2 separate regions of the Homo sapiens genome follow, and region 1 is linked to region 2. The links come from fine-mapping of genetic effects on gene expression. A gene starts in region 2. The other region holds a variant in brackets. All regions are shown on one strand. Distances are between the middles of the regions.

Region 1 (12,066 bases), 38 kb before region 2:
GTTTATATATTCCTCTGTATTCTCTTTCATCTTGGAAAAGAAAAACCCAGGCTTCAGTAGCAAAGTCTCTTAGTGATGAACCCCATCGTCCTGACTCTGAGTTAAAACAGTTTGGACTTCCAAAAAAGAGCTTTAGATTATCACTAGATAAGTATATAAGGTAATGCATATGTTAACTAGCTTGGTGTAGCTATCCCACAATGTATACATGTATCAAAACATGGACCGGTACAGTGGCTCACGCCTGTAATCCAACATTTTGGGAAGCTGAGGCGGAGCCCAGGAGTCTGAGACCAACCTGGGCAACATAGTGAGACCCCGTCTCTACAAAAAATTTAAAATTTAGCCTGATGTGGTGGTGCATGCCTGTAGTCCCAGCTAGTGGGGAGGCTGAGGCAGGAGGGTTGTTTGAGCCCAGGAAGTTGAGGCTGCAGTGAGCTGTGATCGCACCACTGCACTCCAGCCTGGGCCACAGAGTGAGACCTTGTTTGACAAATAAACATAATAACATGATAAACATAAATAAGTAAAGCATGTTGTACATCATAAATATATACAAATTTTGTCAATTAAAAATTAATAATAATTTAAAAAATAGGCTGGGCACAGTGGCTCAAGCCTGTAATCCCAGCACTTTGGGAGGCCAAGGCAGGAGGATCACCTGAGGTCAGCAGTTCCAGACCAGCCTGGCCATCATGGTGAAACCCCATCTCTACTAAAAATACAAAATTAGCTGGGCATGGTGGCACACACCTGTAATCCCAGCTACTCAGGAGGCTGAGGCAGGATAATCGTTTGAACCCAGGAAGCAGAGGCTGCAGTGAGATTGCACCACTGCATTCCAGCTTGGATGACAGAGTGAGACTCTGTCTCAGAAAAAAAAAAACAAAAAAGATTTGTCACTAGTTTTGGAGGGGTGTGTACACATATCTATGTACACATTTGGTTCTGATCCACAGTTTTCTGGTTCTTGTCTTTAAACAGTGCTGCTTGGTAGCCATACACATGGCTGCATGCATGTTACGGAAATAGGCCCAGCCCAATACAGGTTTGCTTCTGCCTGTGTTTGCTAAGGGAAAGTGAGATGTCTTGTTAGGCCCTGAAAAGCATGAAGTGGCTCCTGAGATCCAGGATGATTTCTCCAACTTGATTCAGAGCCACAAAAAGCAGCTGTTAGGAGTAGATTGCAGATGGGCTCGCCATTGTGTAAATGGCTTTTTTCTCCCATCTCAGGAACATAGGTTCAGCCACCAGTTCCAGAAAAGGACATCTTTCCAGTTCAGGAATTCTAAAACACAATTATGTCACAGAGGCTCAAAAAGAGGCACAGACTGAGCTCAGGAAGAGGAGGAAGAGTAAAAGGATCCGGGCATCTTCTCTGCAGCTCTGGCAGGCTTAAAGAATGATCCATTATCATTTCCCAGCACACAGAACTGTTTCCTTAATTGTCTCTGGTTTCTGTTTCCTCCCTTCTGCTTGCAGTCTTGCCATATTCTGTTTAATCATATTATTTCATTCTATAAATCATTTCTGAGGGAGGCCATTTAGGAGACAAAATGGACTTATTTTTGCCTTCAAGTTTAGTGGCCCGTTGGGATTGAGGATTTGGTGAGCCTTGGCCTGAGATAAGCAGGTGTTGGGATGTGGCTGTAAAGTGAATTTTCAAAACCGTGACAGTACCTTGTAATAAAAAAGAACAAGGGAGAGGGTATGCCCCAGTCACCTTCTGGGATGGCCAAAGCTGCAGGACTTCATTAAAGCAGAACTGCTTCTAACTCAACTGGGGCCTCTGCAGGATTTACTAACCTGAGAAAGTCAAGGTACTCTGGGAGACAGCAGGGAGCAGTGGTTGGAGCAGATAATATGTTCTATTTATTCTTTTAAGGAAAATCAGCAATTCACTCAGTTTGTCATTTTTGTTATTCTGTGTCCTCGGGGGATGGTTCAGAGAAAGGGGATTTGGAAGCTCTACTGCTGGGGATTGGATCCTGATTCCATCCTTCCTAGCCTTGTGACCTTGGGCGAGTACAGCACATCTCTGTGCCCTACTTTCTTCTGTAAAACGCAGAGGACAGTGAAGTGCTTGTCTCATGGGGTCCTTTGAGTGGCAGATGAGTTCACAGATGCAAAGTGCATCAAACAGTACCTGGCAAATACCTAAAAATGTTTAATAAATGTTTGCCACAGCTATTATAGGAGCCCATTTCAGAACCTTCCTCTAAGGTCCTCACTCATTTTCTAAGTTCTAGCCCTCAGAAGTAGTGATCACAGGATTCAGGATTTTTAGAAAATATAGATAGACTTTATTTTTTAAAGCAGTTTTAGGGCCAGGCGCCGTGGCTCATGCCTGTAATCCCAACACTTTGGGAGGCTGAGGTGGGCGGATCACTTGAAGCCAGGAGTTTGAGACCAGTCTGGTCAATTGGCGAAACACCGTCTCTACTAAAAATACAAAAATTAGCTGGGTGTGGTGACGTGTGCCTGTAATCCCAGCTACTTGGGAGGCTGAGGCAGGAGAATCGCTTGAACCTAGGAGGCGGCGGATGCAGTGAACCAAGATCGTACCACTGCACTCCAGCCTGGGCAACAGAGGGAGACTCTGTCTCTAAATAAATAAATAGTTTTAGGTTTATAACAAAATTAAGTGGAAAGTACAGACAGTTCCTATATACACACTCTCCAACACATGCAGGATTTTTTTTTTTTTTTTTTTTACACTAGCAAAATCTCACCACCTGGTGCGAGAAACTTTTCCTTTCGAATATGGTTACCAAAAACGGTTTGAGGACCGAGTTAAGGTTTTTGAGACTAGACCTCATCAGTGTAATCACTGTGAGGGAAATGGAAAGGATGAGGCTAAGAGAATAATAGTAAAAGCTGCAGCCTGGAGGTTCATAAAGTATTCCTGCAGTCATGACATGGTGCAGTCTGAGGGATCCAATATTGTGGCTTTATTGTCACAGCCGGTGCAGTCTGCATGCAGTCTAGGAAGGAGGTTCAGAATGTCCTGTTACCAGGTCGACTGTCTGGCTTCTTATTGGTAATGGAGATGAAGTTTGTTTAGAGGCTTTAAGTCCCAGCATGCAATAGTTCCATGAGGACAAACTATGATGAAATTCAAAAATGTGGTCCTTTTGTTATTAGAAAAGGCTTTCTGGTGGCCAGTGAAAACGATCATGAAAAATAATCTTGTCTGTGATTTGAGCTGCTTTCTTAAGCTATATGTGAGTTGTCTATAGTAAAATCATAAGATGAACACTCCTGGCTTATGTATGTTGTCCTGGCAAAATTTTAATAGTGCCCTCCCTCCCACCAGGTGACTCTCAAATAGTCCCAATTTGGTTGATAAATTTTATGGTAATATTTATACTTACATATATAGGACCCAGTACTAAAAATGCTCATGAAACACACAAACACACATACACGCACGTGCACGCGCGCACACACACAGATGAAAAAGTGTTCTAATCTTATAATCAGATACATACAGAATATCTGACAGGTGACTGGCTAATGATGACTTCTTCTTAGTCACCATGCATTCCTCTTCCTGATGTCATTCTTAATTACAGAAATAAAAATTGAGTTTTTCATACTATTAATTGCAAAACAGTCGATAAAACTTGTGCATTAAATAAGCTCATCATACACCCTTTCCTACATAATTTTATGTTATTGAGCTATTTTAAAACTATTTCCGGAGAAGGCGAGATGCAGTGTAAAAAAATAACAACAACTACAAAAAACCCACAAAAAAACAAAAACAGGCCGGGCACAGTGGCTCACACCTGTAATCCCAGCAGTTTGGGAGGCCCAGGCGGGTGGATCACTTGAGGTCAGGAGCTCGAGACCAGCCTGGCCAACATGGTGAAACTCCGTCTCTACTTAAAATACAAAAATTAGCCCAGCGTGGTGGCAGGCGCCTGTAATTCCAGCTACCTGGGAGGTTGAGGCAGGAGAATCGCTTGAACCTGGTAGGCGGAGGTTGCAGTGAGCCAAGATTGCACTGAGATTACACCATTGCACTGCAGCCTGGGCAACAGAGTGAGACTCCGTCTCAAAAACAATAACAAACAATTTCCATCTTTCCAGAGACCCCTATATTATTTTACCATATATTTAAATTAATTTACAAGACAGTAAACATTTTTTACTGAGCAAGACATCTAATACTAGAAAGACAGAATCATGAAGTCCCATTCATTCCTAGGTGGGGATGGATATAGGACAAATGGGAAATATTGACGAGATAACTCAAAGGACTGAGCAATAAGCACAGAGTGCAATCAGTGTCAGCAATAATTATTCAGAGGAGGCAGCAATTTCTTCTGACTTGGATTCTTGGAGATTTGAATTGGTTTTTGAAGGTCTATGGGCTGAATTTGGTAGGGCAGCATTGGCGGTGAGGGAGCATGGCATTCCAGGTAGGCCTGTGAGTGGATGAACACAAGATAGTTTGTCCATAGCAGAGTCAAATAGGGACCCAGTAGGCGAGAAGATGAAAAAAATGGATGGGGCTGGTGGTGGAGGCCAGATAATGCCTTCATCTTAGTTAATGGCTTCGTCTCAGCCCCTTGGGTATTTGGATATCCTCGCATAGTTGCAGAGCAAACATCCCAAACTCCAGGCATCTGCAAACCACATTGATAATTTTGACCCTATCTCTGTACTCTCTGCTTTATTATTTACTTAATAATGTTATTAAATTGACTCAACTTTTAAAATTAAATACCTTATTCAGCCCCATCCTAAACCAGTGGTTCTCAACTGGGGGCAGTTTCATCCCTCAGGGGACACTTGACAATGTCTGTGGTTGTCACAACTGCAGGGGTGCTGTTGACCTCTAGTGGGTAGGGGCTAGAGATGCTGCTAACCACCCTCCAGTGCCCAGGACAGCCCCACAACAAAGAATTATCCCAAATGTCAATAGTGCTGAGGTTGAGAAACCTTGTGGGCCGAAGCAATAATATATGTGATATTGCAGGCTTAAAGTGTGATTATAGTTATTCTAATTACATTAAAATCATTTCATAAGGATTACATTTTATTATTTTTATTTATTAATTTTTTGAGACAGAGTCTTGCTCTGTTGCCCAGGCTGGAGTACAGTGGCACGACCTTGGCTCACTGCAACCTCCATCTCCTGGGTTCAAGGGATCCTCCCACCTCAGCCTCCCGAGTAGCTGGGATTACACGCGTGCGCCACCACGTCTGTCTAATTTTTGTGTGTGTGTTTTTAGTGGCCAGGCTGGTCTTGAATTCCTGACCTCAAGTGATTCCCCTGCCTCGGCCTCCCAGAGTGCTGGGACTATAGGCTTGAGCCACTGCACCCGGCCAACTATTACATTTTTAAATATGACATTTTAAATTTATGTTTTTAAATGTTCTTCCATGTGCTATTCTATAATCATCTCTTGTATCACCCACAATGCAGACGTGGCATTTAAGTTACATTTGATTTGTATGCCAGGGTTCATAGCAGCATTATTCATAATGGCCAAAAGGGGGAAACAACCCAAATGTCCATTGATGGATGAAGGGATAAATAAAATTGGTAAGTACAAGTAATGGAATACTATTCAGCTTTCACAGGGATGAAATTGGCCGGTGCAGTGGCTCATGCTTGTAATCCCAGCATTTTGGGAGGCAGAGGCAAGAGGATTGCTTGAGCCCAAGAGTTCAAGACCAGCCTGGGCAATACAGTGAGATCCTGTCTCTACAAAAAAGTAAAAAAAAAAAAAAAAAAAAAAAAAATTAGCTGGGCATGGTGGCGTGCTCCTGTAGTCCCATCTACTTGGGAGGCTGAGGTAGGAGGATCATTTGAGCCCAGGAGGTTGAGGTTGCAGTGAACTGTGATTGTGCCACTGTACTCCAGCCAGGGAGACAGAGTGAGACCCTGTCTCAAGAAAAAAAAAAAAAGGAATGAAATTCTGACAATTCTGACACATGCTGCAATATGGATGATACTTGAAGACATTATGTAAAGTGAAATTAGCCAATCACAAGAGGACAAATACTGTATGATTCCACTTACATGAGGTGCCTAGAAGAGTAAAATTTGGGCCAGGTGTGGTGGCTCACGCCTGTAATCTCAACTATTTGGGAGGCTGAGGCAGGAGAATCACTTGAACCTGGGAGTGAGAGGCTGCAATGAGTTGAGATTGGGCCACTGCACTCCAGCCTGGGCGACAGAGTGAGACTCCATCTTAAAAAAAAAAAAAAAAAAGTCTCCTTTTCTCTTTACCTTATCTCTTTGTTAAGCTGTCAGCCTGCTATGGTATCACATACAGCCGTTAGCCTCCACCAACTGCTGGCTGATTGTTCTTTCGTGTTTGATAATGCCCTGGAGGCATGAATTGCTCCTGTCTTGTACATTAAATTTGGGCCCCTTTGCAAGGGTAATCTTTCAGGTCAGTCTTTGAGACTTATTCTAACACCAAGGGGGCTCTTCTTAGCTGATGCTTTCCCTGGTTCTCTCCAGAACACTTCTAGCTGGTCTACAGTTCAGCTTGTTGCTTGAATGGAGTTCCCAGGCTCCTCTTAATTGCTTACCAACAAAATCTTCATTGTTTTTGAGAACACCCTTACACTTGAACTTTCCCACATTGTGTTCTACATAAAGTGTTTTCTTGGGAAGAACTTCAGAGGTCTCTGTATCTACCGCCTTCCTCTCCCCTTGGGCAAAACCTCTGCACCACTGCTCCGGAGCTTGGGGAACTCAGGCAGAGACAGTGGCCCCCTTATCTCAGGATGACAATCCGGCTTTATGAGCAGAGTGCTGGGCAGAGCAGTAGCTTTTGCTCTTCTGCTCTTGCCTTTCCTGTAAAGAATCTCTGCCCCATGAGCAAGCTGAGGCCAGGGTAACACAGGCTCCAGTATTCTCAGCCTGCCATGGCCGAGGTGGAGTTTCTGCCCTATGATTGGGGGCTAGGTTTACGAAGTGAGCCCCAGATTTATCAGCCAGTCTTGTCCAAAGTAGAGCTTTTGCAGCATGAAGCTGGAGGGTATGAGAAATGCTGGCAGCCGCCCTCCCAGCGAGATATAGTAGCCCTCAACTGAGAGCTGGGGAAAGAGGTAGCCCGTGTTCTCGGCTTCACCTACTTAGAGTAACTTTTCCATCATGCTGAGCTAGAAGAAGGAGGGAGGAAGTCTTTTGTGGTACAAATGTTATTGACTCTCACTGTTCTTACTGAGACTTAGTACATTTTCTTGAATAAAAGTTTATTAATTTGCCGCATCCCCATAAAACAATTTCCAAAGGCTTTAAATAGTTGTGGCTTTGATCTTAAGCAATTTCCAGAGATTATGGTCATTTCACTGGGGAGAGGGTTCATGGAGCTCCTCATGCTGCCATTCAGAAGTCATGGAAACCAAAATGTGTCTGAGACAGATCTCTATCCATGTAGAGGTTTATTTTGCCATGTAGAGGTTTATTTTGCCATGTAGAGGTTTATTTTGCCATGTAGAAGTTTGTTTTATTTCTTCTTCTGGGAGAAAGAAACACAAGTAACCATAGTTCTTCTGGGAGAAAGAAACACAAGTTACCATAGGATCTGTGGCCTGTGCTTTTTCCAAAAAGGGTTTTTCAGGACTTTAGAGAGGAAAGGAAAAAAAGAAGGAAGGGTAAGCAATGAGACAGGAGATTACTTTCCTATGCGGCTTTGATTAGCACTCGCTGAATCTACATTTTACATGTGAAAGGGGCGGGTAGAGGAACAGTCAATTATGTTAGTTTTCTTGCTTGGTAAATCTACATTTTACATAAAATATGTAAACACAGAGTAGAGGAAGAAATCTAATATGCATTTGTCTTGGGTGGGCAGAGGAATTATTTCTAGTCTGGTCTTTGTCTCATACCTGTGAAGATAAGATGTTAATCTACATAGTTGGCCAGGCACAGTGACTCATGCCTGTAATCCCAGCACTTTGGGAGGCTGAGGCAGGTGGATCACTTGAGGTCAGGAGTTCGAGATGAGCCTGGGCAACATGGTGAAATGCCCATGTCTATTAAAAGTACAAAAAATTAGCCAGGCTTGGTGGCAGGCACCTGGAGTCCCAGTTATTCA[G/A]GAGGCTGAGACAGGAGAATTGCTTGAATCTGGGAGGCAGAGGTTGTAGTGAGCCAAGATCGTGCCACTGCACTCCAGCCTGGATGACAAGACTCTGTCTCACAAGAAAAAAAAAAAGAAAAAAAAAAAGCCTACATTGTCAGGGTGAGATTCAACAGAACTGTGTTTTAGGGGTAGTTCATCAGGAGGATATGTATTCTGAAAGATTTGGGACCCACAAAAAATTTCCTTGTAAGCAATTGTGAGGAAGGCCACCTGGGGAGATAGATGGCCTTCCGTTATCACATACTCATTCCTAACTAAGTACCCAGAGAAAAACATGGACAATAACGTTCATAATAGCGCCATTTGTAATAGCTTAAGGTTGTAAACAGTCCAAATATCCAAATGCAACGATCTGTTTAGGAGCAAAAGGAAGGCAGTTTTTGTGTGACTCAGTTTCCAAGCTTAATTTTTCCCTTTGACATAGTGAGTTTGGGGTCCCAAGGCTTTATTTTCTTTTCACAGTTATATGCCCTATCATGATGATTTATTATGAAGCCATATTTTAGTCCAATTAATCTGGAGGCAATGTTCAGAGAAAATTAGAAATAGGAGAGGTTGGAGCCAGGTAGAAGAGATAACAGGTTATTGCATTAGTTTCAATGTAAGTTGTTAAGGGCCTGAACTAGACAGTGGAAGTAAAAAGAAAAGAATAACAGTGATGTGAGCATAGATTCTTCAGGACTTCCCCACAGATTAAATATGGGGTGCAAGAAAGAGAGAAGGGTCAGAGATGATCCCAAGGTGGTTCTAATATGGGAGAGAAAGGTAAATTTACTTTAGATCTGTTGAGATTTTGGTGACACATATATTCAAGGGAAAGGGAAAATATGACATCATTACTAGAAAGGGAGCATTGGTAAGCAGGGGAGAGGCTGAGTTTTGTAGACAAGGGGATTTGGAGTCATAGTTTCTAGGTAACACGTTGCAAAAGCTGTCCACAGTACAAGATAATGGAAGTCATAGGCATAGACAAGTTTCAGAGAGAAAGAAAAGCAGACCAGGTTAACTTGAACTTGGGAGAATGAAACTTGGCAGGAGGAGAAAAACAGTGAAGGAGCTTGAGAAGTTACCACCACAAAGGGAGGAAGGGTTGACAGCTAACATTTATAAAACCCTTACTAAGAGACAAGCACGATTCTAAGAGTTTTAGATTTTTTTAAATATTTAATCCTCCCAATAACTCCACAGGGTGAATATGATTATGCCTGTTTTACAGATTAAGAAACTGAGGCCAGAGAGGTAAAATAATGTGCTTGAGGTCACAAAAGTGATATTAAGTAAACCCAAAATTAAAACCTTGGCAACATGAGCATGCATAATTCTCATTCTTAAGTATGTACCCAAAGAAACACACGGACAATAACATTCACAATAGCACCATTCGTAATAGCTTAAGATTGTAAACTGTCCAAATGTCCATCAACACTAGAATGGATAAACAGATTGTAGAACATTCATATTCAATGGAATACTATGCAGCATTGGGAATGAACAAATCATTACGATAAGCATGCCACCAGCATAAAGGTGAGTGAAAGAAGCCAGTCATCCAAGAAATGTATGCTATGATTTTATTTATATAAAGTTCAAAAAGAGGTAACACATGGCTGTGGTGTGAAAAAGTCACCTGACCTTTGTGAGGTGGTAGAGACTGGGAAAGGGCCTGAGAGGGGGTTCTTGGGTGCCAGTGATGCCCTGTTCCTGAGCTGGGTGGTGGTTACACAGGTGTGTTCACTTATGAAAATTCATCAAGCTGCTCACTTATGATTCATGTACTTTTCTGTGTGTAGGTAACAAACAAAAAGTACTAAAAAACAAGAAAGCAAAATAGAACCAGGGCATCTGATTTGAGGACCTACCCCCTTAACCACAGAGTGATCCAGAGAACAAGGGTCTTTTCTCCTCTTCCACAAAGAAAAATGTGGAAGGGGACCTTATAAAATTATAAATTTAAAAGAAATTGAAGAGATAGATCAACCAAATGGAATGTATGGGTCTTATTAGCATCCAAATGAAAACAAACCGTAGCTGGGTATTATGGATCATGCCTGTAATCCTAGCACTTTGGAAGGCTGGGGCAAGTGGATCACTTGAGCCCAGGAGTTTGAGACTGGCCTGGGCAACATGGTGAGACCTCATCTCTACAAAAATACAAAAAAGTAGCTGGACATGGTGGCATGCACCTGTAGTCCCAGCTACTTGGGAGGCTGAGGTGGGAAGATCACCTGAGCCCAGGAGGTAGAGGCTGCAATGGGTCATGATCGCACCACTGCACTCCAGCCTGGGTAACAGAGCAAGATCCTGTCTCAAAAAGAAACGAAACAAAACAAAACAAAAATTAAACTGTAAAAGACAATAACAAAACAATTGGGGAATGAATATTAATTATATTATGATTATGTTTTATAAAAAGTCCTTCTATTTCAGAGATACATATTGACATACTGATGGATGAAAGAATGTCTGGCATTTGCTCCACAAGAATGAGGATACGAGTGTTGAGATGAAAGATTGGCCATGGATTGATCATTGCTGAAGGTGGATGATATCTACCTGGACTTCACTGTACTTTGTCTATTTGTTTGAGTATTTTGTGAAATAAGAAGTTTTTGCAAAAGAGAAGAAGAAAACTAACGTTCAGTGTGTTCGCAAAGGAACTGATTCCCTTGGCTCCATATTTTTAAATTTGGATCTCCTTTGAGAGAGAAAGAGAGCAAGCACATGGGTCACAGGACTAAAGGAGAAAGGGGACGTGTGGGTGGAGCATGAGCTTGCGATGCCTGCTCCTGTGGTTTTCTCTCTTCCTCTACTCCTCCACTGGAACAGTTCTGGCAAAGGCCACTGTGACCCCCACTCACTGCTGCATCCAGCAGTTGGCTTTCAGTTCTTCTTTACTTGACATCTTGGTAGCTTGGGACTCTGGTGGCCAGGCCCCCTGCTTGGGAAGCACCTCTGGTTTTCCTTTGTCCATTTCACAGCCTGCCCCATGGACTCTTCTTCCTGTGCCTGATTCTTCAGTCCTGGGCCTGTCCTCAGCCTGCTGCTCTTCTTCCCCATACCCTCTTCCCTGGTGGTTCTGTCCTCTCCCAGCGCTTGAGTTGCTGCCAGGGCTGTCTTTCTAAACAGCAGTTCTCACCAACTGATTCCCTTGTGAAGACCCAGGAATAGCTTCCCATTGCCCAAATGATAACATTCAAACTCTTCCTGGAGGTACAGGAGGCCCTTCAGCATCTTTTTTCGCCTCCACTTCCTTTCTACCTTCCCTCTCTAGCCTTCCCTCCTTCTCCTCCCCTTCACACCCTCCGAGTCAGCCAGTGACATTATCAACACTTCTGGAATGCACCAGGCCGTTCCTTGCTCCCATACCTTTGACTCGATCTGGACTACTCACCCACACACTTCCCTACCTGGAAAACTCTACTCACCCTTTGAGACTCTGCTGCAAGCTCACTCCATCCATAAAGGCTTTCCTCATCTTCCTGTGGAGTTCATTCATCCATTCAATCATCCATTCCTAATAGATGTAGATGCAAAGACCTATGATAAGGCTGAGTGCTGGGGGCCAGAACCCACATCATTCACACTTTACCTCACAGTTCCTATCTCAGGTATTGCCTTACTTACATGATAGCTGCTCCCAAGCCCTACCCCTTGAGGCCAAGGAGGGTGACTTATTCCTCTTTGTACCCAAGTGATAGTAGGCACTAAAACACGCTTGTTCAATTGAATTGAAAGAGAAGAATTACCGAGAAAAGGCCTCTGGGTTTGGCCATTCAAACACTTTTGATAAACTTTGGGTGTCTCTGTACTAAAGTTTAGGGTTGGGGGTGAAGGGAATGAGGCTTTTTCTCCTGAGGGTTAAGGAGAAGCCAGGAATTGGTACCGCTGTAGGCCACTTGCTTGAGAAATGTTATCAGTGATATGAGGCAGGAAACAGGATGACAGCAAGATT
Region 2 (16,730 bases):
ATTACAGGCGCGCACCACCACGCCCAGCTAATTTTTGTATTTTTAGTAGAGATGGGGTTTCGCCATGCTGGCCAGGCTTGTCTCCAACTCCTGACCTCAGGTGATCCAACCACCTGGGCCTACCAAAGTGCTGGGATTGCAGGTATGAGCCACTGTGCCTGGCCTATTTTTTTTTTTAATTTATCTTCCAGATTTTAGCCCAGGACCTGGTACATAGCAGATGCTCAGTAGATCATTCTCAAAAAGGTTTTAAATCCCCAGCCTGCATGCAGCCTCCTTTCCCTCAGTCTCCTGGCCACTTGTGCATGTTTTCCCCAAGCTCCCTAACTCATGGGGGTAACTCAGGCTGCCCTTGCCTTCCTCAGGGCTGAGGGAACTGGGAAGGTGGCAAGATTAGCAACCTAGAAACAGTTGCCTGGCATCTGAGGGAAAGCCAGCCCTCTCCTCTCCACCTCCCATCCCAGCAGATGGGTTCTAGTGAGTTTGTGGGCTCCCTTGCTCCAACAAAAACGGGAACAGATTGGATCCCCAGGACTCACAATGTGGGAACACGTGCAGTGGGTGGAAATGTCAGTTCACAAACTCAGGTGCACATGAAGTTTAACTTTGTGTTTTACAAATCAGCTAGTCTGCTAAACTGGGGGGAACTTAACCCCGGTTCTTGAAGATGTGTTCCCTGCTCCTCCCTGACCCATAGCCCCATGGTTGTTCTCTGGGTCTGGAATCTTAGGCTGTGTGCAAAGCATTTCTTCATTGGACACATGTCCACATGGTTGCTGCTGAGACATCCGCCATCCCTGCTCCATAGGCTCAGGCCCAGAGTCTCGGCAAATTCCATCTAAGTGACCCCCGCCCCATGACACTCTTCTGTGATCCTTCTCTGGGTTCATGTGTGTGGCTTCTGGGGTCTACTAGGGAGACAGGCCAGGTCTGCTCTGTTCCTGGGACCCATGACCTCTCCCTCCTCATAGCCCCTCTGCCCTGGGTGGATGAACCCTTTGTCTTTCATCTTTCTCCAAGACATTTTGTCTTCTCTATGAAATTCTTTCTACCTCAGGGAGTCTTAGACTAGACCTATGAAAATGTAGTCCAGGAAGGGAGTTAGTGTTTGGTGGGCAACTTTTATTTTCTGCTCTGTCACAGCCCTGCCCAGAGCCCACTACTTGCACATTTGGAGGAATAGAAAAGAGAAAAATACGGGGGAGGAGCCAAGATGGCCGAATAGGAACAGCTCCAGTCTACAGCTCCCAGCATGAGCGATGCAAAAGATGGGTGATTTCTGCATTTCCATCTGAGGTACCGGGTTCATCTCACTAGGGAGTGCCAGACAGTGGGCGCAGGTCAGTGGGTGCGTGCATCATGCGCCAGCCAAAGCAGGGCGAGGCATTGCCTTACTTGGGAAGTGCAAGGGGTCAGGGAGTTCCATTTCCTAGTCAAAGAAAAGGGTGACAGAAGCCACCTGGAAAATCGGGTCACTCCCACCTGAATACTGCGCTTTTCCGACGGGCTTAAAAAACGGCGCACGAGGAGATTATAACCCACACCTGGCTCAGAGGGTCCTACGCCCACGGAGTCTCACTGATTGCTAGCACAGCAGTCTGAGATCAAACTGCAAGGCGGCAGCGAGGCTGGGGGAGGGGCGCCCGCCATTGCCCAGGCTTCCTTAGGTAAACAAAGCAGCCAGGAAGCTCGAACAGGGTGGAGCCCACCACAGCTCAAGGAGGCCTGCCTGCCTCTGTAGGCTCCACCTCTGGGGGCAGGGCACAGACAAACAAAAAGACAGCAGTAACCTCTACAGACTTAAATGTCCCTGTCTGACAGCTTTGAAGAGAGCAGTGGTTCTCCCAGCATGCAGCTGGAGATCTGAGAACGGGCAGACTGCCTCCTCAAGTGGGTCCCTGATGCCTGACCTCCGGGCAGCCTAACTGGGAGGCACCCCCCAGCAGGGGCAGACTGACACCTCACACGGCCGGCCGGGTACTCCAACAGACCTGCAGCTGAGCGTCCTGTCTGTTAGAAGGAAAACTAACAAACAGAAAGGATATCCACACCAAAAACCCATCTGTACATCACCATCATCGAAGACCAAAAGTAGATAAAACCACAAAGATGGGGAAAAAACAGAGCAGAAAAAATGGAAACTCTAAAAAGCAGAGCGCCTCACCTCCTCCAAAGGAACGCAGTTCCTCACCAGCAACGGAACAAATGACTTTGACGAGCTGAGAGAAGGAGGCTTCAGACGATCAAATTACTCCGAGCTACGGGAGGACATTCAAACCAATGGCAAGGAAGTTGAAAACTTTGAAAAAAATTTAGAAGAATGTATAACTAGAATAACTAATACAGAGAAGTGCTTAAAGGAGCTGATGGAGCTGAAAACCAAGGCTCGAGAACTACGTGAAGAATGCAGAAGCCTCAGGAGCTGATGCGATCAACTGGAAGAAAGGGTATCAGTGATGGAAGATGAAATGAATGAAATGAAGAGAGAAGGGAAGTTTAGAGAAAAAAGAATAAAAAGAAATGAGCAAAGCCTCCAAGAAATATGCGACTATGTGAAAAAACCAAATCTACGTCTGATTGGTGTACCTGAAAGTGACGGGGAGAATGGAACCAAATTGGAAAACACTCTGCAGGATATTATCCAGGAGAACTTCCCCAATCTAGCAAGGCAGGCCAACGTTCAGATTCAGGAAATACAGAGAACGCCACAAAGATACTCCTCGAGAAGAGCAACTCCAAGACACATAATTGTCAGATTCACCAAAGTTGAAATGAAGGAAAAATGTTAAGGGCAGCCAGAGAGAAAGGTTGGGTTACCCTCAAAGGGAAGCCCATCAGACTAACAGCGGATCTCTCGGCAGAAACTCTACAAGCCAGAAGAGAGTGGGGGCCAATATTCAACATTCTTAAAGAAAAGAATTTTCAACCCAGAATTTCATATCCAGCCAAACTAAGCTTCATAAGTGAAGGAGAAATAAAATACTTTACAGACAAGCAAATGCTGAGAGATTTTCTCACCACCAGGCCTGCCCTAAAAGAGCTCCTGAAGGAAGCGCTAAACATGGAAAGGAACAACCGGTACCAGCTGCTGCAAAATCATGCCCAAAATGTAAAGACCATCGAGACTAGGAAGAAACTGCATGAACTATCGAGCAAAATAACCAGCTAACATCATAATGACAGGATCAAATTCACACATAACAATATTAACTTTAAATGTAAATGGACTAAATGCTCCAATTAAAAGACACAGACTGGCAAATTGGATAAAGAGTCAAGACCCATCAGTGTGCTGTATTCAGGAAACCCATCTCACATGCAGAGACACACATAGGCTCAAAATAAAAGTATGGAGGAAGATCTATCAAGCAAATGGAAAACAAAAAAAGGCAGGGGTTGCAATCCTAGGCTCTGATAAAACAGACTTTAAACCAACAAAGATCAAAAGAGACAAAGAAGGCCATTACATAATGGTAAAGGGATCAATTCAACAAGAAGAGCTGACTATCCTAAATATATATGCACCCAATACAGGAGCACCCAGATTCATAAAGCAAGTCCTGAGTGACCTACAAGGAGACTTAGACTCCCACACATTAATAATGGGAGACTTTAACACCCCACTGTCAACATTAGACAGATCAATGAGACAGAAAGTCAACAAGGATACCCAGGAATTGAACTCAGCTCTGCACCAACTGGACCTAATAGATATCTACAGAACTCTCCACCCCAAATCAACAGAATATACATTTTTTTCAGCACCACACCACACCTATTCCAAAATTGACCACATACTTGGAAGTAAAGCTCTCCTCAGCAAATGTAAAAGAACAGAAATTATAACAAACTATCTCTCAGACCACAGTGCAATCAAACTAGAACTCAGGATTAAGAATCTCACTTAAAACCGCTCAACTACATGGAAACTGAACAACCTGCTCTTGAATGACTACTGGGTACATAACGAAATGAAGGCAGAAATAAAGATGTTCTTTGAAACCAACGAGAACAAAGACACAACATACCAGAATCTCTGGGACGCATTCAAAGCAGTGTGTAGAGGGAAATTTATAGCACTAAATGCCCACAAGAGAAAGCAGGAAAGATCCAAAATTGAAACCCTAACATCACAATTAAAAGAACTAGAAAAGCAAGAGCAAACACATTCAAAAGCTAGCAGAAGGCAAGAAATAACTAAAATCAGAGCAGAACTGAAGGAAATAGAGACACAAAAAACCCTTCAAAAATTAATGAATCCAGGAGCTGGTTTTTTGAAAGGATCAACAAAATTGATAAACCGCTAGCAAGACTAATAAGAAAAAAAGAGAGAAGAATCAAATAGATGCAATAAAAAATGATAAAGGGGATATCACCACCGATCCCACAGAACTACAAACTACCATCAGAGAATACTACAAACACCTCTACGCAAATAAAACTAGAAAATCTAGAAGAAATGGATAAATTCCTCGACACATACACTCTCCCAAGACTAAACCAGGAAGAAGTTGAATCTCTGAATAGACCAATAACAGGAGCTGAAATTGTGGCAATAATCAATAGCTTACCAACCAAAAAGAGTCCAGGACCAGATGGATTCACAGCCAAATTCTACCAGAGGTACAAGGAGGAACTGGTACCATTCCTTCTGAAACTATTCCAATCAATAGAAAAAGAGGGAATCCTCCCTAACTCATTTTATGAGGCCAGCATCATCCTGATACCAAAGCCGGGCAGAGACACAACCAAAAAAGAGAATTTTAGACCAATATCCTTGATGAACATCGATGCAAAAATCCTCAGTAAAATACTGGCAAACCAAATCCAGCAGCACATCAAAAAGCTTATCCACCATGATCAAGTGGACTTCATCCCTGGGATGCAAGGCTGGTTCAATATACGCAAATCAATAAACGTAATCCAGCACATAAACAGAACCAAAGACAAAAACCACATGATTATCTCAATAGATGCAGAAAAGGCCTTTGACAAAATTCAACAAATCTTCATGCTAAAAACTCTCAATAAATTAGGTACTGATGGGACGTATTTCAAAATAATAAGAGCTATCTATGACAAACCCACAGCCAATATCATACTGAATGGGCAAAAACTGGAAGCATTTCCTTTGAAAACTGGCACAAGACAGGGATGCCCTCTCTCACCACTCCTATTCAACATAGTGTTGGAAGTTCTGGCCAGGGCAATCAGGCAGGAGAAGGAAATAAAGGGTATTCAATTAGGAAAAGAGGAAGTCAAATTGTCGCTGTTTGCAGGTGACATGATTGTATATCTAGAAAACCCCATTGTCTCAGCCCAAAATCTCCTTAAGCTGATAAGCAACTTCAGCAAAGTCTCAGGATACAAAATCAATGTACAAAAATCACAAGCATTCTCATACACCAACAACAGACAGAGAGCCAAATCATGAGTGAACTCCCATTCACAATTGCTTCAAAGAGAATAAAATACCTAGGAATACAACTTACAAGGGATGTGAAGGACCTCTTCAAGGAGAACTACAAACCACTGCTCAAGGAAATAAAAGAGGATACAAACAAATGGAAGAACACTCCATGCTCATGAGTAGGAAGAATCAATATTGTGAAAATGGCCATACTGCCCAAGGTAATTTATAGATTCAATGCCATCCCCATCAAGCTACCAATGACTTTCTTCACAGAATTGGAAAAAACTAAAGTTCATATGGAACCAAAAAAGAGCCTGCATCGCCAAGTCAATCCTAAGCCAAAAGAACAAAGCTGGAGGCGTCACACTACCTGACTTCAAACTATACTACAAGGCTACAGTAACCAAAACAGCATGGTACTGGTACCAAAACAGAGATATAGATCAATGGAACAGAACAGAGCCCTCAGAAATAACGCCGCATATCTACAACTATCTGATCTTTGACAAACCTGAGAAAAACAAGCAATGGGGAAAGGATTCCCTATTTAATAAATGGTGCTGGGAAAACGGGCTAGCCATATGTAGAAAGCTGAAACTGCATCCCTTCCTTACACCTTATACAAAAATCAATTCAAGGTGGATTAAAGACTTAAACGTTAGACCTAAAACCATAAAAACCCTAGAAGAAAACCTAGGCTTTACCATTCAGGACATAGGCATGGGCAAGGACTTCATGTCTAAAACACCAAAAGCAATGGCAACAAAAGCCAAAATTGACAAATGGGATCTAATTAAACTAAAGAGCTTCTGAACAGCAAAAGAAACTACCATCAGAGTGAACAGGCAACCTACAAAATGGGAGGAAATTTTCACAACCTACTCATCTGACAAGGGGCTAATATCCAGAATCTACAATGAACTCAAACAAATTTACAAGAAAAAAACAAACAACCCCATCAAAAAGTGGGCGAAGGACGTGAACAGACACTTCTCAAAAGAAGACATTTATGCAGCCAAAAAACACATGAAAAAATGCTCACCATCACTGGCCATCAGAGAAATGCAAATCAAAACCACAATGAGATACCATCTCACACCAGTTAGAATGGCAATCATTAAAAAGTCAGGAAACAACAGGTGCTGGAGAGGATGTGGAGAAATAGGAACACTTTTACACTGTTGGTGGGACTGTAAACTAGTTCAACCATTGTGGAATTCAGTGTGGCGATTCCTCAGGGCTCTAGAACTAGAAATACCATTTGACCCAGCCATCCCATTACTGGGTATATACCCAAAGGACTATAAATCATGCTGCTATAAAGACACATGCACACCTATGTTTATTGCGGCATTATTCACAATAGCAAAGACTTGGAACCTACCCAGATGTCCAACAATGATAGACTGGATTAAGAAAATGTGGCACATATACACCATGGAATACCATGCAACTATAAAAAATGATGAGTTCATGTCCTTTGTAGGGACATGGATGAAACTGGAAATCATCACTCTCAGTAAACTATCGCAAGAACAAAAAACCAAACTCTGCATATTCTCACTCATAGGTGGGAATTGAACAATGAGAACACATGGACACAGGAAGGGGAACATCACACTCTGGGGCCTGTTGTGGGTTGGGGGAAGTGGGGAGGGATAGCATTGGGAGATATACCTAATGCTAGATGACGAGTTAGTGGGTGCAGCACACCAGCATGGCACATGTATACATATGTAACTAACCTGCACATTGTGCACATGTACCCTAAAACTTAAAGTATAATAATAATAAAAAATTAAAAAAAGGAAAAAAAAAGAAAAGAGAAAAATACAAAGAGGAGGGGAACAAAACTCATAGATGAATATATCAAAATATTTATCCCAAGCTGATATACCTTGTAGATTGCCTTCAACTCTAGATCTCCTCCTCCTCCTTCTTCTTCTCCTCTTCCTCCTCCTCCTTCTCCCCCTCCTCCTTCTCCCTCCTCTTCCTCCTCCTCTCCTCCTCCTCCCCCTCCTCCTTCTCCTCCTCCCTCTCCTCCTCCTCCTTCTCCTTCCTCCTCCTCCTCCTCCTTCCGCCTCCTCGTCTCCTCCTCCTCTCCTCCTCCTTCTTCCTCTTCTTCTTTTCTTCCTCTTCCTCTCCTCCTCCTTCCTCTTTCCCTTCCCCTCCTCCCTCCTCTTCCTCCTTCCTCTTTCTTTTCCTCCCCCTCCCCCTTCTTCCTCTCCTTCTCCTTCTCCTTCTCCTCCTCCTCCTTCTTCTTCTTCTTTAAAAAAGAGATAGGGTCTTGATCTGTTGCCCAGGCTGAAGTGCAGTGGCACAAAGATAGCTCACCCTAACCTTGAATTCCTGGGCTAAAGTAATCCTCCCACCTCAGCCTCCTCAGTAGCTGGGACTACAGGCATGAGCCACCATGCCCAGCCCAAACCCCAGCTCTTCTGCTGAAAGCAAACTTGCCCCCCTAGGGTGCTAGAAGAGCTCAGGCAGGGTTGGCTGCCACCTTCTGAGGGACTGTATGTCTTACTTCTGTCTGTCTTCTCCACAGCCCTGTTGGTTACCTTTTCCTAGCTACTCCCATGGTTTTGGGAAGAACATTTGTCAGAATGGTGAAGGGAGGGCCCCTGGGGCTCATCCCAGTGGTCAGCATAGGCATCAAAGCAGATTACGGCAAGCCGTGGAATATGTACTAGTGGAGGAAACAAATGGTGCTGGGCAAATTAAGAAAGAAGGTATAGGCCGGGCGCCGTGGCTTATGCCTGTAATACCAGCACTTTGGGAAGTTGAGGCGGGTGGATCACTTGAGGCCAGGAGCTTGAGGCCAGCCTGGCCAACACAGTGAAACCTTACCTCTACTAAAAATGCAAAAAAAGAAAAAAAGAAAAAAAAAATTAGCCAGGCTTTGTGGCACACACCTGTAGTCCCAGCTACTTGGGAGGCTGAGGCATGAGAGTCACTTGAACCCGGGAGGCAGAGGCTAGAGTGAGCCAAGATCACCCCACTGTACTCCAGTCTGGGCGACAGAGCAAGACTCTGTCTCGAAAAAGAAAAGAAAAAACAAAAAGTCTCCAAAATAAATAAATAAATAAATAAATAAATAAATAAATAAATAAATAAGAAAGAAAGAAAGAAAAGGAAATAAAAAAGAAAGAGAGAAGGTATAAATTTCCAGGTGGGAAGTAACCAGGACAGGAAATCTTCATGGAGGAGGTGGCACTCGGTGTAAGGATTTAGAAGAGATAAGACGGAGGGAAGGCAGGAATGATGGTCTAATTGGGGAGCAGAGAGGGTGTACTTGGAGCATGTGCTTCAATAAGAAAAGTGTCTCAGTTTTTAAGCTAATGTTGACCTGGTAAAAAGATGTTTGAGGGAGTAGGGTAAAAGCAAGACTATAGTGTTATGGAGAAGGTGGCTGAAATCCTCAATAGTGTCACTGAGTGGTCCTAAGCAGGCTCTGGATCCAGGCTGCCAGGGTTCAAATCCTGGCTATGCTATGCAGCTGCTGCATGTTCTTCAGCAGGTTACAAAACCCCTCTGTCCCTTGAGTCCTCAGCTATGATGTGGAGACAATAATGTACTGGTGTCCAAAAGTGGCTATGAGGATAAGTTTAGAAGTTTAGAAGTATAAAGGGCTTAGATGAGTGCTCGGCACATAGTAATGCTCACTGTATGTTTAGCAATAATGGTGATGGTGATGGATAAGATAAAGATGGACGCCCCTCCCAACCAAACACCCGGGTGACCTCTGGTTCCGACCCCCTCCAGGCCCTCCTGCCCTGATGTTTGACCTCAGCTATGCCTCTGATTCCAGGTAGGGGAAGATGCTTATGCCCTTCCAGGTCTCAGGTTGCTTATTCTGTGACCATCTGACCCCTAGCAATGCTGTCTCAGCCCCTCCAGGCCAGGTCTGGGTGCCGTGGGCCCTGCTGATGAGGTGGTGTGTCATGCCTGGTCAGCAGGGCAGACCGAGGGGCAGAGCTGCTTTCCCCAGCAGGGGAATAGAGTTGCGCCTTGCCTCAACTCTGCCTCTCACTGGCCTCAGTTTTCTTCTTAGTGGACTCCTAGGACATCTACCCAGATGCCCGGACAGAGGCACAGGCTTGGCTCAGGTCTTCCAGCCAATGAATAGCCAAGGCCGGATTCACACTAGGACAGTCTGGCTTTTAACTGCTGCACTAAGAGTCACTGCAGTAGATCCAGACATCAAGGAAGGTTCCCAGAGTCCTGGTGCCTCTGTGCCCTTAGGCGGGTGAATACTGATGGGTGGAGACAGAATTGTTACAAATATATAATAAATAAGTTATAGTAAAGCAGAATTCAATCCGAAACTCAGAAGAAAAGCAGTCCCCTCCATTCTATTGCAAACCACCTCTAAACTTCGTGGCTTAAAACCACAAAACTCACATTTGCTCATGATTCTGCAACGTGGGCAGAGCTCGGCAGCGGCAGTTCATCTCTGTTCCACATGGCATCAGCTGAGGCTGCTCCACCGAGGCTGCAGGATCCAGTTCCAGAATGGCACACTCACGTCACTGGAAGTTGATGCTGGCTGGCAGCCAGGGCCTCCTCTTGGCCTCCTTACACAGTTAAGTTAAACTTCTGCAGCACAATAGTTGGGTTCCAAGTGGGAGCATCCCAGGAGGAAGCATCCCAGGCCAGGGGTAGGCACTTTTCAAGCCTCTGCTGGCATCTTCTTGCTAGAGCCCTATTGGCCAAAGCTTGTCAGCTGACCAAGCCCAGAGTCAGTGTGGGAGGAGACTACACACAGTGGTGAATACTGGGAGCTGTGGTTTACCGAAGTGTCTGTCTGTCTGAACTTCTTTTTCCTAAGGCTCGCTTTGGTGCTCCTCACATTCTCCCATCAGCCTCCTCTGAAACCTGGTTCCATCCAGTATCCTCTCTCTCACCTCGTCCATTGCTCCTTCTTCAACGAATCCCTCCTTTCAGCCAACAGACCCACTCAAGCCACAGCTATCCCCGAACAGCTCCGTTCAGCCCTGCGTCTCCCTCAGGGTGCCGTCCTGTCTCCCTCCATTCCTTTGCTTCCAAAACCCTTCAAATAGCTGCTGAATGCTGGAAGCAGAAAAAGTTCCCTAAAGCCAATTTGCTACATTTATGAAATATTCTAGGCTGGGCACTGTGTCTCACGCCTGTAATCCCAACACTTTGGGAGGCCAAGGCGGGCGGATCACAAGGTCAAGAGATCAAGACCACCCTGACCAACATGGTGAAACCCCGCCTCTCCTAAAAATACAAAAATTATCTGGGTGTGGTGGCACGCACCTGTAGTCCCAGCTTCTTGGGAGGCTGAGGCAGGAGAATCGCTTGAATCCAGGAGGCAGAGGTTGTAGTGAGCCAAGATCGTGCCACTGCACTCCAGCCCGGCAACAGAGCCAGACTCTGCCTCAAAAAAAAAAAAAAAAAAAAAGTGAAATATTCTGATTTGTCCATTCTAAAGAATTTTTTCTTTAATGTTTTCAATGAATACGAATATATACTGTTAATGAATGCATTAGTAAATATATTCAAGAATATACTCTTATGAATATAAATAAAAATCTATTGATAAGAAGTCTAAACTACTCGATGACTCTTAGGTTCCAGCAAGCCCATAGTCTGTGAATAGATTCACAAGTGGAATATATTCATATTCACTGAGAAAAACTTTCTTCAAAATTTTTGACAAATTTGCCAAAATTGGCACACATCTCTTAATTAAAAAATTTCATCCCTCCTTTCTTCCATCCATTCATCCATCCAACGGATATTTATTTGAATGCCATGACATGCTCAGCACTGGGGCATAGTGTGGTTGAACACAGACCCAGCCCCGGCCCTCATAGAGTTTACAGTCTAGTAGGGGAGACAGTTACTCATTAAGTGATCATTTCAAACAAACCCTGAAACTGGCCGGGTGCCATGACTCATGCCTGTAATCCCAGCACTTTTGGAGGCCAAGATGAGAGGATCACTTGAGGTCAGGAGTTCGAGACCAGCCTGGCCAACACGGTGAAACCCCGTCTCTACTAAAAATACAAAAATCAGCTGGGTGTGGTGGCGGGTGCCTGTAATCCCAGCTACTCCGGAGGCTGAGGCAGGAAAACTGCTTGAACCCAGGAGGTGGAAGTTGCAGCGAGCTGAGATCGCGCCACTGCACTCCAGCCTGGGTGACAGAGTGAGACTCTGTCTCAATTAAAAAAAAAAAAAGAACACTGAAATTGCAATCTTGACCAGTGCTACCATACCTTTTCCAGCTCATGACACGCCCTTTGGCACGCACTGCTTTGGAATTTTGATCATACTGCTCCCTTTGCTGGCAATGCTCTTTCCCGCTTTCCCTGCTTGGCATATGCAGCTTAATTTTAAGACCCCAGTCAACAGCGCTCACTGTGGCTCTGGCTCCTATCCCCAGGAAAGATGAACTGCTCCATTATTTATGTTCTAGCAGCACTTGGCATAAACTTCTAGCAGTGAACATATCAAACCATAATATATTATATCTGTGTCTCTTCTATTAGATCGTAAGTGCAATAGGGTCAAGAATTCTGTCTTCAGAGGCTTGGGTGGAGTGAGTGTGCATGTTTAAAAAGAGAGAAGTTTACAAAAATGTTTAAAAAGAAAGAAGTCGGGGGGTGGGGGGCGGGTGGGCAGGCGCAGTGGCTCACGCCTGTAATCCCAGCACTTTGGGAGGCAGAGGGGGCCAGATAGCTTGAGCTGAGTTTAAGACCAGCCTGGGCAACATGGTGAAATCCCATCTCTACAAAAACATACAAAAAAAAAAAAAAAAAATTAGCTGGCTGTGATGGCAAGCACCTGTAGTCCCAGCTACTCAGGAAGCAAAGGTGGGAGGATTGCTTGAGCCTGGGAGGTCGAGGCTGCAGTGAGCTGTGATCGCCCTTTGCACTCCAGCCTGGGAGACAGAGTGAGACCCTGCCTCAGAAAAAAAGGTATCCTTACCTGACATGGAAAAATTCCTCTGGGCACCCATTAGGGGACAGACACCTCCATTTACACTCATCCTTTTAAAGCCTCTTATAATTTGACCCACAATATAGACATCAAAAATAAGCTTGAGGGAGGCCCAGCAGCCATGGTGGCAGACAGGGCTGGCAGGTAAGGCTCTGGTGGCCACTGACTTGAGGGAGAGCAGCCTGCTGACCTCAGCCAGGGCTGCAGCAGTGGGGCCAGTGCCAGACAAGGTGCTCCAAGGGGCTAGGACCAAGTGCAGTCATCTTTGCCTCTCTGGCATCTAGCAGCATTGACTAGATGCTCACACACTCGAGAAATACGTGTTAAGTGAACGGTCCCTGTGACAATCAAGCAGACTTTTTTCTTTCCGATGACACACCTCCTCTGGCCGCCACTGTCACCCTGCAGAGCAGAATCACTCTTCTGCGGGGAAGCTGGAAGGGAAACAGGCCAGGACAGCCTGGGTGAAGCAGGACTGTGTTTTGATGAGCTGAGCAAGCCTGGGTGCGGGACCCTGAGGTTACGTAGCAGACCAGGGACCCCAAGGAAGACTGCATGGATTTTGTGGGCAAAATCAGTCCATTTCAGAAATAGTTGGTGGTTTAATTGAGCCTGTGGACCAACTTGCAAAAGCAGCAGAAAATGAGAAGAGGAAGGTAGTTGGTGCTTGGAACTTGCTCCAATTTATGGCAAAACACAGAGAAGCCCAACAGCAACAACTTCTAGCACAAACAGCAGAAGAGAAAATGTGGCTAAAAAGGTGGTGGATTGAATATGAAGCCTCGTGGAAAGTAGATGCACAGAAGGAAACACATTTATTGGCCAGTTTATTTTCAGATGTGACTAACGACCTGAGTATGTCGTGTGAGATGCAGTGTGAGGAATACAGCCTTTCTGAAGGTGATAATACAAATCTGGAGGGGGCTTGTTTTAAACTTTAGCGCATATCTGCTGGGGAACATTGGTGCCATGTAGCCGGCAGCCACGGCAGTACAGGTACTCATCTCTGGCATTCTTAGTCTGAACTGAACAGTCTGTAAACGTTGATCTTTTTGTTTTTTTGTTTTTGTTTTTGTTTTTTTTCTGTAAATTCACAAAGACTTGGAAGGAAGAGCAATAAATTATTGTTTTCCAAACAAATAAACTTGAGAGAAAAATAATCCTTTTTCTCTCTTTTTTTTTTGAGACGGAGTCTCGCTCTGTCGCCCAGGTTGGAGTGCAATGGCGCAATCTTGGCTCAGTGCAACCTCTGCCTCCCGAGTTCAAGTGATTCTCCTGCCTCAGCCTCCTGAGTAGCTGGGATTACAGGTGCCCACCACTATGCCCGGCTAATTTTTGTATTTTTAGTAGAGATGGGGTTTCACCATGTTAGGCTGGTCTCGAACTCCTGACCTCAGGTGATCCGCCTGCCTCGGCCTCCCAAAGTGCTGGGATTACATGCATGAGCCACTGTGCCCGGCTGAGAGAAAAATAATACTTTTATGTATATGCTTTTATAGGCACAAGATATCTCTAGAAATATCCATGAGGAACTCTCATATTTCATCAGATCTAAGATGCCCTCAATTATAAGATATACCATTGTTGCATGCACAAGAAAGAAAAAAGACTGCTAAACGGAGAGGCAAAAGATTCAGAATAGCCAACACAATGTTGAAGAAGAAGAAGAAGTCGGAGGACTGATACTACCCAACTTCAAGGCTTACTATAAAGCCACGGTAATCAAGAGACTGTGATATTGATAAAAGAATAGGCAAATAGATGAATAGAACAGAATAGAGAGCCCAGAAACAGACCCACATAGCTATACTCAACTGATGTTTGATAAAGGAGCAAGGATAATACAATGGAAAAAAAGACAGTATTTTCAACAAATGGTCCTGGAACAACTGGACATCCATATGCAAATAAAAAAAAAAAGAATTCAGACACAGACCTTGCACCCTTCATAAAAATGAAGTCGAAATGGCTCACAGACCTATATGTAAAGCACTAAACTATAAAACTTCTAGAAGACAACAAAGGAGGAAATCTGGATGATGTTGCGTATGGACATGACTTTTTTGATGCAACACCACAGGCATTAACCATGAAAGAAATCATTGATAAATTGGACTTCAATAAATTAGAGAAACTTCTGCTCTGTGAAAAACACTGTCAAGAGAATTAGAAGACAAGCCACCAACTGGGAAAAAGTATTTGGAAAAGACACCTGATAAAAGATTGTTATCCAAAATATACAAAGAACTGTTAAAGCTCAACAATAAGAAAATGAACAACCCAGCTGAAAAATGGACAAGCGACTGGAACAGACACCTCACCAAAGATTTTACAAATGAAGTAAGCATGTGAAAAGATGCTCCACATCATGTGTCATCAGGGAACTTCAAATTAGATCAACAATGCGAGGACCCAAACACGTGTGTTGCTCCACATCCTCACCAGCATTTAGTGTTGTCAGTGTTCTGGATTTGGGTCATCTCATTGAATCAGTGTGAATGAATGAACTCTCATTCATTGCTGATGGGAACGCAAAATGCTACAGGTTCTTCAGGCTCTTTGGAAGACAATTTGATGGTTTCTTTTCTTTTTTTTTTTTTTTTTTTTTGAGACAGGGGCTTGCCCTGTCACCCAGGCTGGAGTGCAGTGGCAAGATCACGGCTAACTGCAGTCTCTAACTCCTGGGCTCAAACAATCCTCCCACCTCAGCCTCCTGAATAGCTGGGACTACAGGCATGTGCTACCATACCAGGCTAATTTCTAAAACAAAAATTTTGTAGAGACAGAGTCTTCCTATGTTGCCCAGGCTGGTCTCAGACTCCTGGACTCGTGATCTTCCTACCTTGGACTTCCAAAGTGTTGAGATTGTAGGCATGAGTCACCACTCCCAGCCTAATTTGGCGGTTTCTTACAAAACTAAATATACTTTTACCATATGAACTAGCAATTGTGCTGCTTGGTATTGACCCAAATGAATTAAAAACTGGTGTCCACACAGAAATCTGCCCATGGATGTTTATAATCAGCTTTATTTATAATCATCAAAATGTGGAAGCAAGCAAGATGTCCTTCAGTAGGTGAATGTGTAAATAAACTATAGGTACTTCCAGACAATGGAATATTATTCAGCACTAAAAGAAATGGGCTTTGGGTGATAATAATGTGTCAATGTAGGTTCATTGATTATAACAAATTTACCTCTCTGTTGCAGAATGTTGATAGTGGGGGAGGCTGTGTATGTGTAGGGCCAGGGAGTGTATGAGAACGCTCTGTACTTCTAAATTTTGCTGTGAACTAAAACTGCTCTAAAAGATAAAGTCTATTTAAAAAAAGACTGCCAGTTAACTATATGACATGATGCCATAACGACAGCCTTGCATGACACATGATTGATCACACCAGCCCTTCATGGCTTTGAAATTTCTTGCATCTATTCTGAGAGATCTGGCAATTTCCCCAGTCTTAAATTGCATTGTCTGGCATGAATTTGAGTAGGTAACATTCCTTTTTCTCTTTTGGGTATCTTCCACTTTGGGGTCCTCAAATGGACCAAGCATGCATCAGCAGCATCAATATCACCAGAGGGCTTGTTAGAAACGTGGAATCTGAGGCCAGACGCCGTGGCTCACACCTGTAATCCCAGCACTTTGGGAGGCGGAGGTGGGCAGATCATGAGGTCAGGAGTTCGAGACCAGCCTGGCCAACATGGTGAAACCCTGTCTCTACTAAAAGTACAAAAAATTAGCCAGGCGTGGGGGTATGTGCCTGTAGTCCCAGCTACTTGGGAAGCTGAGGCAGGAGAATCGCTTGAACCCGGGAGGCTGAGGTTGCAGTTAGCAGAGATCGCACCATTGCACTCCAGCCTGGGTGACAGAGCAAGACTCCATCTCAAAAAAAAAAAAAAAAAAAAAAAAAGAAATGTGGAATCTGACCCATGCCAGACTTAGTGAATCAAAATCTGTGTTTTATCCAGATCCCAGCGGATTTGTGTGCACATTGCAGTCAGAGAGGTACTGCTGCTGAAAACCTCTCAATGGTTGCTCTGCAAGAAAATATGGAATGGAAATCATTACTCTAACAATTCATAAATTCGCTTCACTAATATCAATTTTGCACCTCACTGTTGTTTCTGTAACTTTCTGCATCCACAGTGACCTTTCATTTAAATGCTGATAGTACCGTCTTTTTGAAGATATTTTAAATAGCAAGTAAAGTCAGCGCATGTAGCGTCAACAATGCACATAAATCATTTGAAATGATGACAATACCAAAGCTATAGCCAAGTTTGCTCAAGTGCAGGCAATGGTATCAATGTGATGAGAGCCACCTAGCTGACAGCTATTGTAAGACA

Alleles and levels. Alleles are on the strand shown, and positions count from the first base shown. SD is a standard deviation of normalised expression in the study named.
In carriers of allele G in region 1, the expression in esophagus muscle of the gene that starts at base 10,117 in region 2 tends to be higher than with A alone (small effect, 0.26 SD a copy in GTEx).

Evidence for each region. PIP is the estimated chance that this variant, and not a neighbour inherited with it, causes the effect.
Region 1: its variant is fine-mapped to the expression of CARMAL in esophagus muscle (GTEx, PIP 0.93).

The regions. Positions count from the first base shown.
Region 1 is chr15:89,074,858-89,086,923 of GRCh38, reverse strand. CARMAL (coronary artery disease region linked MFGE8 regulatory lncRNA) reads right to left here. Exons shown (of 4, transcript NR_183882.1): 3 at 11,540-11,628; 4 at 2,695-4,433. It also overlaps a transcript of ABHD2 not described here. Among named protein-coding and RNA genes, the nearest start is that of ABHD2, 7.6 kb to the left of the region's middle. The variant G/A (reference allele first, on the strand shown) is at 8,070.
Region 2 is chr15:89,034,385-89,051,114 of GRCh38, reverse strand. CARMAL (coronary artery disease region linked MFGE8 regulatory lncRNA) reads right to left here and starts at 10,117. Exons shown (of 4, transcript NR_183882.1): 1 at 9,815-10,117. It also overlaps a transcript of ABHD2 not described here. RefSeq lists an enhancer at 1,584-2,135.